3 separate regions of the Homo sapiens genome follow, and regions 1 and 2 are each reported to be linked to region 3. Evidence: microRNA targets listed by miRTarBase, many of them from high-throughput screens and not tested one by one. Region 3 holds a microRNA gene; each other region holds the end of a gene's coding sequence.
What was found. Region 3 holds the annotated microRNA hsa-miR-342-5p (AGGGGUGCUAUCUGUGAUUGA, at 2,252-2,272, opposite strand). A microRNA usually pairs through its seed, bases 2 to 8, with sites in the 3' UTR of a target mRNA and lowers its output. Matches are read on the target gene's strand: a 7mer-m8 pairs with bases 2 to 8, a 7mer-A1 pairs with bases 2 to 7 and ends in A, and an 8mer does both.

Region 1: miRTarBase lists SETBP1 as a target of hsa-miR-342-5p. Seed matches in the 3' UTR shown: 7mer-A1 at 1,396-1,402.
Region 2: miRTarBase lists CYP2W1 as a target of hsa-miR-342-5p. Seed matches in the 3' UTR shown: 7mer-A1 at 3,762-3,768 and 7mer-m8 at 3,424-3,430.

What each region holds. Positions count from the first base shown.
Region 1 is chr18:45,063,156-45,067,310 of GRCh38, reverse strand. SETBP1 (SET binding protein 1) reads right to left here. Exons shown (of 6, transcript NM_015559.3): 6 at 1-4,155. The coding sequence ends at 3,613. Among named protein-coding and RNA genes, the nearest start is that of MIR4319, 95 kb to the right of the region's middle.
Region 2 is chr7:988,524-992,662 of GRCh38, reverse strand. CYP2W1 (cytochrome P450 family 2 subfamily W member 1) reads right to left here. Exons shown (of 9, transcript NM_017781.3): 9 at 3,023-4,028. The coding sequence ends at 3,841. It also overlaps a transcript of CHLSN not described here. Among named protein-coding and RNA genes, the nearest start is that of CYP2W1, 7.4 kb to the right of the region's middle. RefSeq lists an enhancer at 3,296-3,896.
Region 3 is chr14:100,107,790-100,111,944 of GRCh38, reverse strand. MIR342 (microRNA 342) reads right to left here and starts at 2,290; the gene lies at 2,192-2,290. The region is part of intron 3 of EVL (Enah/Vasp-like); the gene reads right to left. MIR151B (microRNA 151b) reads left to right here and starts at 2,431; the gene lies at 2,431-2,526.

The DNA.
Region 1 (4,155 bases), not on the chromosome of region 3:
TTTCTACTTAAGTCTTAAAACCAAAGCCTTTATGATCTGCATGTAGTACATCACCTTATACTATAATTCTGTCACCACTTGCTTATCATATTTATAGACCCAGCAATGCGCAGAACACAAATTCTGACTGCCATTGAACATGGCCTCCTAGTCCGGACAGCAGCCAAATTAACATTCTAATCTTCTGCCAGCCCTTAGTCACCTTCTCTGGGCTGTCAGTGGCTGCTGTTTCCTGGTCCTGCCAAGTCACAAACCAGCCCCTGACATGCTTTCCCTTCCTTTGACCTTTCTTCTTTGGGTTTTAGCCAGAGCTGGGCTATTTGAGGAAGTTAAACTTCTGCTCCTCTCATTTGAGATGAGGGGTGGAAGAGCAAGTAGCTCTTCCAGACACTTAGTCAAGTGGATTAAAGATCCATCATCACCTTCAAGGTGACTTTTGTATCTAGATTTCATCCTTTTCTCATCACTAACCAGACTCCTTACAAGTGGGTCTGCATCTGCTTACTGAAGGCAGGTAATCCAGAAAACAAAAGAAAAAGAAATAAAAATCAAGGGGTTTCTCTTATAATGAAATATTTTGTGAAGCTGTATGTGGAGCACCATGCATCCCAAAAGACCTCTTCTCAAAAAAAAAAAAAAAATGCAGCCCCCAGAAGGCAGTGTTGGGGGGCCAGAGACCTCCACGATCAGGGTTGGGAGAGCTGGGTTTTCTTCCTAGCTCTGCAACCGTCTGTAAGCTGCATTGGCCCACGGCTGAGCTGAGTTTGGACAGGTGGGGAGAGGCTAAAGGAATTGGGGGTAGTTAGAGAATAAGAAAATGGTTGTACTGATGAGATGAGTTAGGTTAATGAAAAGCAGAAGAAAAAAATAATGTGATACTGAGGGAGGAACTGGGTGGTGGAGAGAGGAAGCTGAGTAGGTGACTGAACTTGCTTCCACCTCCAAGCAGCTGTTTAGCATGCCTCAGCTTTGGTCCTCTGCAGTATTCCAATCTATTCCTAGGGTCATACAAGTAGAGGATTCGAATTTAACTCACATGACCACTATAGACCAGAATTCACGTGTAAGTTGCAACTCTGCTGTTAAATCTCCTGAAATATCTTTCAGAGCTTTGGAAATTCTAATGTACCCCAAAGCTTTTTTGGAATTTCTCACCTACTAGAGGTTAATGTCAAGTAAACTTTGGGTCCTTATTAAAGAAGTTTGCAGAGTGCCAGCTCATCTTCCTCTGCAAGAAGATTGAGTCTGCTTATAGACGTGGTTGGAGAGATAGTACAACACAGGAAGGAAGAAGGGCAAACGAAAGAAAAAAGGAAATGATTTCAAAACCCAGTAAGAAGAGAAACCTCTTTATGGCTGAATTGGAATGAAAACGTTGCTGTTTTATAGCAATGGTGGGGTGAGAGGGACTAATTTAAACCTTCCTCTCAGGTGACTTTGGAACCACTCAGATAGGGCTTGGGAATGACGAATTAAAAATGGCTGCTTTGATTTTGCTGTTCAACTTGCGTGAAATGCCAAAGGTCAACCAAGGTCACAAACTGAGTATCTAGGATATAAGCTTTAAAGTAGAGGGGAATGCAGTCCTTTAAACTTACATATTGCTAGGATTAAATGCGATTGAACTAGTGGGCAGCAAATGATGTGAAGTCCATGGTGACAGAGCACAGGAGTATGACTACGTGGGTAATTTCAACCAACTCTTGGTGCCATAACGCAGCAGTAATGTTTGCAAGCATATTAACTTGGAATTTAAAAATTTACTCACATAGATACCCCATCACTTATTCTTTTATGTTGCCAACAAAAATCCATCTCTCTCTAAGGAAGTAATATTGTGTTCCGAAATGATAATACAATTTCCAGCTGGTCCCAACTTCCTGTAAAGAAACTTAATTTGGAGGTAAACCAGATATTCTAATTCCCATTAGAAAATTTAATTCTCTCTCTCAGTGTCTCTTTCTATAATCTACCATGCCAGGTGTTTGATGTCTTGGGGAAGGTAAGAGGGAGTGAGGGAGGAAATTGAAAATACTTATTTGAAATTTCCACAATCTGACTTTTAGAAAACATCTACGGAAATGGAATTCTTCATATTCATTCTGAGCCTGCTTAACATATTTTATTTGGGCTGTGGAAATGGATAATAGAGATGGAGTATCTGTCCACGCTAAACCAATGGCTAGAGTACAACTTGGATGAGAAATGTACAGCTGAAATTGACCATTTAAAAGACGATTTGTCACACACAGTTTGCATCCATGCAGACTGATAGATTTATAATTACATTATGTACAATAATGTTTTAGTTTATTAAGGCAACCACAATTTGGATACTTTGTCCAAGGTGGCTTGATAAAATTGAAGTGGTGATACCCTTTGAGCATTTTATTTATTTATTTTTCCAGATAAGAACACTTACTCCCATTTGCTTTTAAGAAATAATTATCAAGGGATAATGGACTTCTATTGTGTTTTTGTTTCCTTTTTTTTTTTTTTTTTGAACAACCTATGACAATTATTTGAATGAAAAAGATCAGGTACCAAGGCATTGCTAGACACTTGTCTTTCTGGTGGGTCTGGGGTTTCAGTTTTTGGTGGTTTGTCAGTTACTCTATTTGCTGTGGGGTATTTAAACCATTTTATTCTGCCTATGCTCTGCTGACATGTTTTAAGTATAAAAATAGCCTGGTTGACATCTGGGTCAACATATCCTTGGCTGCTCTGCATCACTTATTAAAAAGGTTTTATCAATACTGAGTATGTTTCACAACGATTGGGATTCAAACCCAGGTTCTTGGAACAGCATGCCAAGGGTGAACTTTACAGCACAGGTTAAGGATTACTTTATTTAAATGTGTACCAAGAAAAAAAAAAGGCAGCAAGTAAGTTAATGAAAAGATATATGGAAGTACAATGGGCAAAGGAAAAATAGGAATAGACAATGCTAAAAATCAGTGTATGTGCAATAGAAGAGGCACACAGAACATGAATGCGGGTCTGAGGTCGCCTATCACTAGAATTCCACCTTCTGATCACACAATTCCATCGAGAAACTGTACGGTTAAGGGAAAGATTCAGGTCACCTGAAGATGACGTTGGTACCCCAAAGCTTAGCAGAGCTTGAAAATCAAAAGAAATAAAAACCAATTAAATGGAACGGGTTACAGCAATGCCAGTTGAGCAATTTGCAGCTTTTCTCCCCTTGGAATGTTTCCTAATTGAGGGTGTTTCCCTTTCGATTTTCCTGGCCAGCAAATGAAATCGGGAGTCGAGGGCGCACCTTGGCAGCGTGAGGTCAGGAGAGTGCCACCAGCCTGCTCCTCCTGGGGGCCTTCCGCTCGCCTGCGGAGGATCCAGCCGTACTGAAGCGCCGCGTGGTGGGAGCTGCGGTGAAGCTCAGACAAGCTTCTTCTGAAGGTGTCTCCCTGCTTTGCTTTCCCAAGAGCTCCTGATGGCTCAGCCCCGTCGTCTGGCCGGATTCTGCCTGCCCGGCTTCTGGAGAGAAGGGCGTGGGTGTCCCTGCAGCGGGGGATTCCGCCCCCGCCCCGGCTCACTGCGCTTCCCACGTGTCAGTTCCCTAGGCCCCAGGTGCAGACGCCCAGACCCGCCCTAGGGAAGGACCTCGCTCTCACTCCCTCGGGACTTCCTCTGCCTTTTGGCTTTCACCTCCTCTTCCTGGGGAAGGGGCTGCTGCGGGGGCGACTGCTGTGGGGGCTGAGCGGGGGCCTGCGGTTTGTGTTTCCTCTTTCCGCCTCGGGGGGTCTTGGGTAGAGGGGGTGGCGGGGGCAGGGGTGGTGGCGGCGGTGGCGGCAGGGGCGGCGGCGGTGGCGGGGGCAGGGGCGGCGCCTCCCGGGCCATGTGGATGACCGCCTCGATGGTGGCCATGATGGTGTCTTGGCTGGCGGCGGGCTCCAGCACCAGCGGGCTCAGGCTGGGCTTCTGGCCTCTTTTGCTGGGCAGGTCGATGCATTTTTCCAGCACCGGCATTTGGTCTCTGGAGTCCTCATCGAACTGGGTGGGCTGCTTCCTGGGACGCCCGCGCCTCTTCTTCACGAAGTTGTTGCCTGTTTTTGATTGTCTCTGCAGCCGCTTGGCCTTCAGGATCTTGTTCACGTGGTCCAGGTTCTTCTTGGTGGACAGGATCTTGGTGTA
Region 2 (4,139 bases), not on the chromosome of region 3:
TCCAGCCTCTGGGTTCCAGAAGTTTCCTAATGGGGGCTGCCCACTCCGAGGGAGGAGCTTCAGGACATCTGAACCAGGACCCCCGCACTGGACAAGGCCCCAGGCCCCTACATGTGTGTTCCCTGTGGGTGTGGTTGAGCGGTGGCGTGGCAGCTCCCTTGGGTCACTTGGGTTCCATTAAACGGCGTCTCCGTGGGTAAAGCTTGGTCTCCTCCTAAGCCCGGCCAGCCCGGCACTCAGATGGCCTCACCCTCCGAGCTTACTGTGGGGGGGCCTCACCCTCCGAGCTTGCTGCGGGAGGTTTGCAGATGGCTCGGGGACTGTGTGGTTTTGTTTTGCCTTGACTTAGGATGGTAATGGGAGGCACGTGCAGCACGGCTGAGGGCCAGCCTCAGACCCAGAAGCAGATCTGGGGCCAAGAGCAGCCTGCCCACCCCAGGAGGGTCCTTCCCTGGAGACCTAGAGGCGGGGGGGTACAGGGGCCGGGGTCGGCGTCCCTCCTGCTGCTGAGGACAGACGTCCGGGGAGCAGTTCAGCCACGTCGTGAGCCATGGGGTTCGGGGTGTCTGCCTCTCCCATGACATCTGGGCACCATGGGGTGGATGTCCACAGAGGCATCTCCCGAAATCCATGCGTGAGGAAGCTGGGCTCGCGGGCTGCCTGCTGCCTGAGTTCTCTGGGACCCTTGAAAAGGACCCATTGGCAGGTGCGTGGATAAAGCAGGACAAATCCACCACTCCCCACTCACTCGAGGTCCCCAGAGCCCTCACACCCACAGACCAGGAAGGAGAAGGACTGGGGAGGGACTCGGAGTGGGTGTTTAACGCAAGCAGGGCTTCAGCCCGGGAAGATGAGGAGGCTCTGGAGGTGACAGTGGTGGCCGTGAATGTGCCTGTGCCCCTGAACTGTGCACTTCAACATGGCTGATGGTGAATTTTCTCTACGTGTATTTTATCACCATTTTTAAAAATAGCAACAAAGAAACACTTGGAAATGAGGCGTAGACAGTGGCCTGTCCCATCCGTGCCAAGCCCCGGCATTTCCCAGCAAGCCCCCGGGACGTGCCTGTGCACCTGGCCGGCAGCCTGAGTGCAGCTGTGAGAAACGGGCACCCAGGTCTGCCCGGTCGAGAAGGTGGCACCTCCGGGGTTCGGGTCTCACTCGGCCCCCCCCTTCCCTCCTGCCCGCCCCACACCCCTGCCCACGCCCATGGGCATGAGTTAAAGGAGATTTGATACCTGCTTACTCTGTTTTCACTAAGCTAGGCTTGTTTACACTTGAGGATGAGGCATTTGGACCGCCTAACTTGGGGGGCCCTGGCTGTACCCCGTGGAGGAGCCCTGTCATCTCGCTGGGTGAGATGGGGTGAGAGGTCGCGTGAGTCGGGCGAGCGGGGTCAGGGTTGGGGTTGGGGTTATGTTTATTGTCTTAGTGCTTTGAGGGGAAGCTCAGCCGTCACTCATCACCCTGTACTTGGTGTCCCTCATGTCGGCTGGGCCTCCATGAAGCGGGGCGGGACAGGGTCAGCGTTTCCTCCCCACGTGGGCCTCGGGCTCCCCTGGGCCCAAGGAGATGAATACCCCAGGCCAATGTAAGGCGGGGGCCCGAGGGTCCCCTGCAGGGCCGGGAGGGCGGGGCCTGAGTCCTTCACCCCACCCAGGAGGCCGACTAAGTTGGGGGCACAAGGGTCCCCTGTAGGGTTGGGAGGGCTGGGCCTGAGTCCTCCACCCCACCCGGGAGCCCTGACAACAGCTGGGAGGGATTTTCCACAGCCCCTGCCCTGGAATGTTCCGCACCCTCCAGAGCTCCAGAGGGGCTCACCAGTCACACTGGGCGGGGCGTCGCGTGGCCCCACCTGGCGCCAGGACCCCGTTCTTTCTGCCCTTCAAGTTTTCAGTGTCATATTTCAAATGTCTGAGGGGAGAATAGTGAAGCCAGCACTCGCTCCCTGCTCTTCCCCAGAAATAGGTGAGCGGACGCAGCCGAGCCTCCATCCCTCCGTCCCCTTCTCGTCCTTGCAGCAGCCTCCGTAGCAGCAGCCCCACCCATGACTTAGGGACCCTGCGGCCCCACCTGGGAGTGTGAGGCCTGCCGTGCACCCGTGTGTCCCGGCCACCACGTCCTGGCCTTGGGGCGCCGCTTCACGTGGCGCAGGTGGGAATGTGCCACGGCTTATCCTCTCTTCTCGGTGAGGGGCCGCCTGCCGCTCACGTGCATGGTCAGCGCTGGGACGGGGGCCAGGGCCGTCTCAGACAGCAGGTGTCCCATCACACCGCCCCCAGCACACGCGCCACTGTCACACTGCCGACCACACCGCCCCCAGCACACGCGCCACTGTCACACTGCCGACCACACCACCCCCAGCACACGCGCCACTGTCACACTGCCGACCACACCGCCCCCAGCACACGCGCCACTGTCACACTGCCGACCACACCACCCCCAGCACACGCGCCACTGTCACACTGCCGACCACACCGCCCCCAGCACACGCGCCACTCACACTGCCGACCACACCGCCCCCAGCACACGCGCCACTCACACTGCCGACCACACCGCCCCCAGCACACGCGCCACTCACACTGCCGACCACACCGCCCCCAGCACACGCGCCACTCACACTGCCGACCACACCGCCCCCAGCACACGCGCCACTCACACTGCCGACCACACCGCCCCCAGCACACGCGCCACTCACACTGCCGACCACGCCACCACCAGCACAGGTGCCACTCACACTGCCGACCACACCGCCACCAGCACACGCGCCACTCACACTGCCGACCACACCGCCCCCAGCACACGTGCCACTGTCACACTGCCGACCACACCGCCCCCAGCACATGTGCCACTGTGTGGCTCGACATTTCCTTCTGTTTGTTTGAGATGGAATCTCGCTCTGTCACCCAGGCTGGAGTGCAGTGGTGCGAACTCGGCTCACTGCAACCTCTGCCTCCCAGTTCAAGCGATTCTCCTGTCTCAGCCTCCTGAGTAGCTGGGATTACAGGCACGTGCCACCATGCTCGGTTAATTTTTTTGTATTTTTAGTAGAGACAGGGTTTCACCATGTTGGGCAGGCTGGTCTCGAACTCCTGACCTCGTGATTCGCCTGCCTCGGCCTCCCAAAGTGCTGGGATTACAGGCATGAGCCACCGCACCGGGTCAGTGTTTCCATTTTTGCCACTGCAGTGCTGCTTGTCTTCAGGGGCTGAGGTGCCCTCCCCCCGCCCCAAGGAAGCCTCTGGCGCCAGTGCCTGTCTCTGAAGGAGAATGTGGGCCTTGCCTCCCTGCACCAGTCATACGCATGGCCCCAGTGGCTTGGCTCAGAGTCTGGCACTGCAGGCCGACTGCCTCCAGGCACAGCTGCAGGAAGTGTTCCAGGAGCGGGAATGGAGTGGGGTCTGCAGGAGTCCCAGGACCTGGGGGGTGCAGGGCTCGCACGCTGAGGACACCCACCTGCGCCTGTCTCTGGCTGGATGCAGCCACCCGTTGTCTCCCTGCAGCCCCAGCTGTAGGTGCTGGGGGGCCCTGGGGGGAGCTAGGTGGGTGGGAGTGCAGCTTCAGGGGTGGGAGAGTGGGCGGGGCCCTGGAGGCGCTCCTGGGGGCTGGCAGGGACTGAGCTGCAGACAGCATCAGAGGGGTGGGGGTCCCACAGGGTCGGGCAGGGGTAGTCCTGGGTGTAACCGGAAGCAGTTGCTGACCCTGTGGGGGTGGGGGTGAGGGTGGGAGTCCTCAGGGCCCTCCCAGAGCAGTCCGAGCTGTGGGGTGGGAGGAGAGAGGGTGGGAGGACCCAGGGCTGGGAGGGGAGTGGTCAGGAGGACCTGGGGGCTGGGGGAGCTCCTAGGGCCTGGGCACCGCACACAGGGCCTGGGCCCTCGGCCTCATGGTAAAAGCCCGGGCGGGCGTGGTGTCCAGGGAGGCCGGACTGACGCCAGGCGGGGGCAGCAGGCGGTACCTCTGCAGGAGGCCGGCAAACAGCAGGAAGAGCTCGGTCCTGGCCAGGCGCTCCCCAACACAGACGCGGCGGCCTGCGGGGGATGTCCAGGCACAGAGTGGGCTGCACCAGGCCTGCTCCTGGAGGGGAGGGGTGGGGACCTCCCCAGGGGAGCACAGGAGCAGCCACCACAGCCGCCTTCAGA
Region 3 (4,155 bases):
AGCTGGGGGGCTGCCAGCTGAGCAGGGTCTTTTGAGAGGCAGTCTGGTCCACTGGGCAGAGACCTGGACTGGAAATCAGAACATCTGGGCTCTGGGCCTTAAGCTCTGCATTCACCAGAGTGGCCTGGGGCAAGTTTCTTAGCACTGTGAGCCTTTGTTTCTTCCTTCTTAAAATGGAGAAAGTAATTCCTGCTATCTCCCTGCAATCTCAGGGAGCCAAGATCCAGGCACAAGAGCATCCAGGAAGGGGTTTGTTCCTTTCTGTAAGGAGTATACGGCTTAGCTCTGGGTGGTGGCACACCAGAATGAAATGACTCTGGCTACGACTGAGGGGTGAGATCCCAGTATCTAGGGATTGGGCACTCCAGGAACAACTTGCATTCACTGTGCCATATGCTTACAAATCACAGTCCCATCTATTTTATCATTTGAGCCTCATGACAACTCTGTGAGGTGGTTGTCACACCCATTTTAAAGACAAGGAAACTGGCCGGGCACGGTGGCTCACACCTGTAATCCCAGCACTTTGGGAGGCCGAGGTGGGTGGATCACCAGAGGTCAGGAGTTCAAGACCAGCCTGGCCAACATGGTGAAACCCTGTCTCTACTAAAAATACAAAAATTAGCCGGGCGTGGTGGCGCATGCCTGTAGTCCCAGCTACTTGGGAGGCTGAGGCAGGAGAATCGCTTGAACCTGGGAGGCAGAGGTTGCAGTGAGCTGAGTTTGCACCACTGCACTCCGGCCTGGGCAACAAGAGCTAGACTCTATCACAAAAAAAAAAAAAAAAAAAAAAAAATGAGGACACTAAGGCTTAGAATGGTGAAATGGCTTGCTCAAGGTTTCACAGCTGCTCCATGTGACAGGGTGGAGCGGGTGCCTGGAGCTAGGGCATGGTACCCTGTCACCTGCCCCCACAATCTGTGCCACTTCTGTCAACCACTGTGCTGACCATGGCAGGCACACCTCAGCTGGCTGCTTCCTGAGCCCTACCAGGAGGCGTCAGGAAGGTGCTGGTGAGGCAAGGCTGGGGAATGAACCACCACCTATCTCAAACCCTGACTGGGCACATGGCGCCTGGGCTGTATCTACAGAAGACTAAAACTCCAAAGGAATCTCGCCATTAGCGTTAGGGAGATAATCCTGGGACTGGTGGAAGGAGGAGACCTCTCTTCTCTAGGATGTAAACTGCAATAAGCCAGCAGCTCTTTTGAGGAGGACAATGGCAGCAGCAGGATGCAGGTGGGATGCTCTGAAATTAGGGGCACCCGTGAGGCATGCACAGTACTACCAATGTGCCGAGGGAGACCCCCAGGGTCAGACAGAGCCTCTTCTCAGATCTTGATTTGAACTTCCAAACCACCAAGATCTGCTGGTGCCGCCGTCCTCCTCCTCATCAGATCCCCCCATTCACCCCCAGCCCTGCAGGGCCCAGGTTCAAGCCCCGCTTCCCTCAGAAAGTGTTCTCTGACCATCAGGATCCAAGAAGCCTGGCTTCCCTCTGTGTCCCAACGTGATGGCTGCTGGCACCACACAGGAGTTGATATTGTTAGTTACCTTTTTTTTTTTTTCCTGAGACAGCGTCTTGCTCTGTTGCCCAGGCTGAAGTGCAGTGGTGTAACCATGGCTCACTGCAGCCTCAGACTCCAGGGCTCAAGCAATTCTGCTACCCCAGCCTCCTGAGTAGCTGGGACCACAGGCACACGCCATCACACTTAGCTAATTTTTAATGCTTTTGTAGAGACAAGGGTCTTGCTATGTTGACCAGGCAGGTCTCGAACTCTCACACTGAAGTGATCCCCTGACCTCCTAAAGTGCTGGGATTACAGGCATGAGCCACTGTGCACGGCTGATATTGTTAGTTACCTTTGCAAATAATTTTTTTAAAAAGAGTAACTTCAAACTGTTATAGTAATTTAGAGGTGACAAAGAATGTTTACAAACATCATCTCATGGTACCCTCACAACAACCCTGTGAGGTGAGTCTGATTCAGCCATTTCACAGATGGCGAAACTGAGTCTTAGGTCAGTGACATGCCCAAGGGCACACTCCTGGCACAGCTGGTACTGGAACCAGATCCGAGTTCACGTCCGAAGTTCCTTCCACAGTATGCACACCTCGGGGCCACAGCAGCTGAAGGCCCTTCCATAGGCTGTGGCTGGAGAAGGCGTGTTCCTCTGTTTGGGGTGGTGATAAGTAGGCCAAGGTGACGGGTGCGATTTCTGTGTGAGACAATTCCATTAACCATGTCCCTCAATCACAGATAGCACCCCTCACCTTGAGCCCAGTTTCACAGGTTGGCCAGCAAGCGGTCTTGGTTCAGGAACTCCATCTTAGTCTGCAGAGAAGGATGCAATGGCAGGAAGTGCCAGGCTATGAGAGGCACACAATATGACATGGGCGCAAGCTGGGAGCTTGTTCAGTCACCAGACACCTCTGATGTGTCAGTCTCTCTTCAGGGCTCCCGAGACACAGAAACAGACACCTGCCCTCGAGGAGCTCACAGTCTAGACAAACAAACCCAGGGTCCAAACAAATGGGACACCAACAGTGTGCGAGGACTGGGAAGGGGTGCCTGAGGTCTTCTGGGGCACTGGGAAGGCTTCACAACAGCAGGGCAAAGGATGAGCAGAAGGTGACCAGGAGTATGGAGAGAACATGCATGAGGGCAGGGGCGGGGCCCCTTTAGACGCAGCCCAGGGAGGACAGACTGAAGAAGGACAAGAGAAGGTGGATGGGTTACAACCCCATTACAACACTTCAGGGGAGAGAGTGTCAGGGGAGAGACGGTGAGAATATGCAGTGCAGGTGGTGAAAATGGGAGCCAGTGAGTCAGAGGGACCAGGGGCTCAGGCCAATGCACAGCCTTCACTGCTGGACATGGTCCCACAGGACCTCGATGCTGAGCTGGGGCCTGGGCTGAGTCAGGAGACAGGGCTCCAGGCACGGCAGCCTCTGGGTCCTGGTGTGTTCCTGCAGCCAGGGATGGATATACTGAGAGCTTATAAGGCAGACGATGTGTGGGTTTTTGGGGTCCAGAGACAAAGAGGCCACTTTCTGAATTTCCAACCTGACTAGATTCATGCAGTGGGAATAGCAGGACAGGCCAAGTGGCAGCTGACTGTTAGGACAGAGGCAAAAATAAAGCCCCGTGGGAGTGCAGGAGGGAGTGCAAAGTCACAGGGAGCGGGGCGGCTGGGAAAGGCTCCATCTGTGGAGCCACATTCTGACAGGACGAGTGAGATTTTAGAAGTGTGGGGAAAAGTGAGAGGGGAAGAAGGGCCAGGGGCACAGGAGAGCCTGAGTAAGAGTGTGACTGACGGTGCGACTTGGGTAGCTGTTGGCATGGAGGCGTACAAAGGCCCTGCCTGATACAACATCTGGAGCCCTGGGGTGAGAACAGGGGTGGGTCAGCAAAGAGACATATCCGGCTTTCAGAAAGTGGCCGCCAGAGGGCAGCTGGGAGCAGGCAGGAGGCCAGGGGCTTGCCGTCCTGTTCCCCTCAGGCAGGGCCATGCTGGGCCTGCTTTCTCTCAGGTGGCACAAGGTGTCAAATGGCCTCGGCAGCCAGGGAGATGAAGACAGTCCAGTACTTCCTTCTCTTTAGGGGAGAAAGAGGTAATTTCCAATGGAAAGAGGTTTACAAGAAGCAAAATTCAGCCCCACCTCCAAGAGCTATGAGGTTTAACAACCTTCCACTCCCCTCCAAAGAGCACATGGAGCTGGGCCTGACTCTTCCCGGGAAGGTCTGCCTGTAAGTCCCTTTCCGGGGCTCTTTCTCAACACTGTGCTGAAGGTGCAGCCCCTGGGCCACTGGGCATCAATGAAGGACATAAGAGGTTGAAAAACTGGGAAAACATTTATTATCCAGCACCAGGAGCTTCATATTTTGAAATATACCAATGATGTTATTACACGCAAACCAAGTAGGAAAAGGACATACATTATGCTCCAAGAGCCAAAGAGAACAAGCACTTCATCCTGTGTTTTAATTCGCCCGGATTCCCACTAAGCTATGGGGTTTTCCTTTTTCTTTTCTTCAGAGTCCCACTGTATAAAGTCGATGAAGAACTACTCTGGTTGCATCAGGGCGAGGACCCTGGTATACCTTGGTGGACCCCTGGAACTCCTCAAAATATCCAGTTTGAAATCCACTG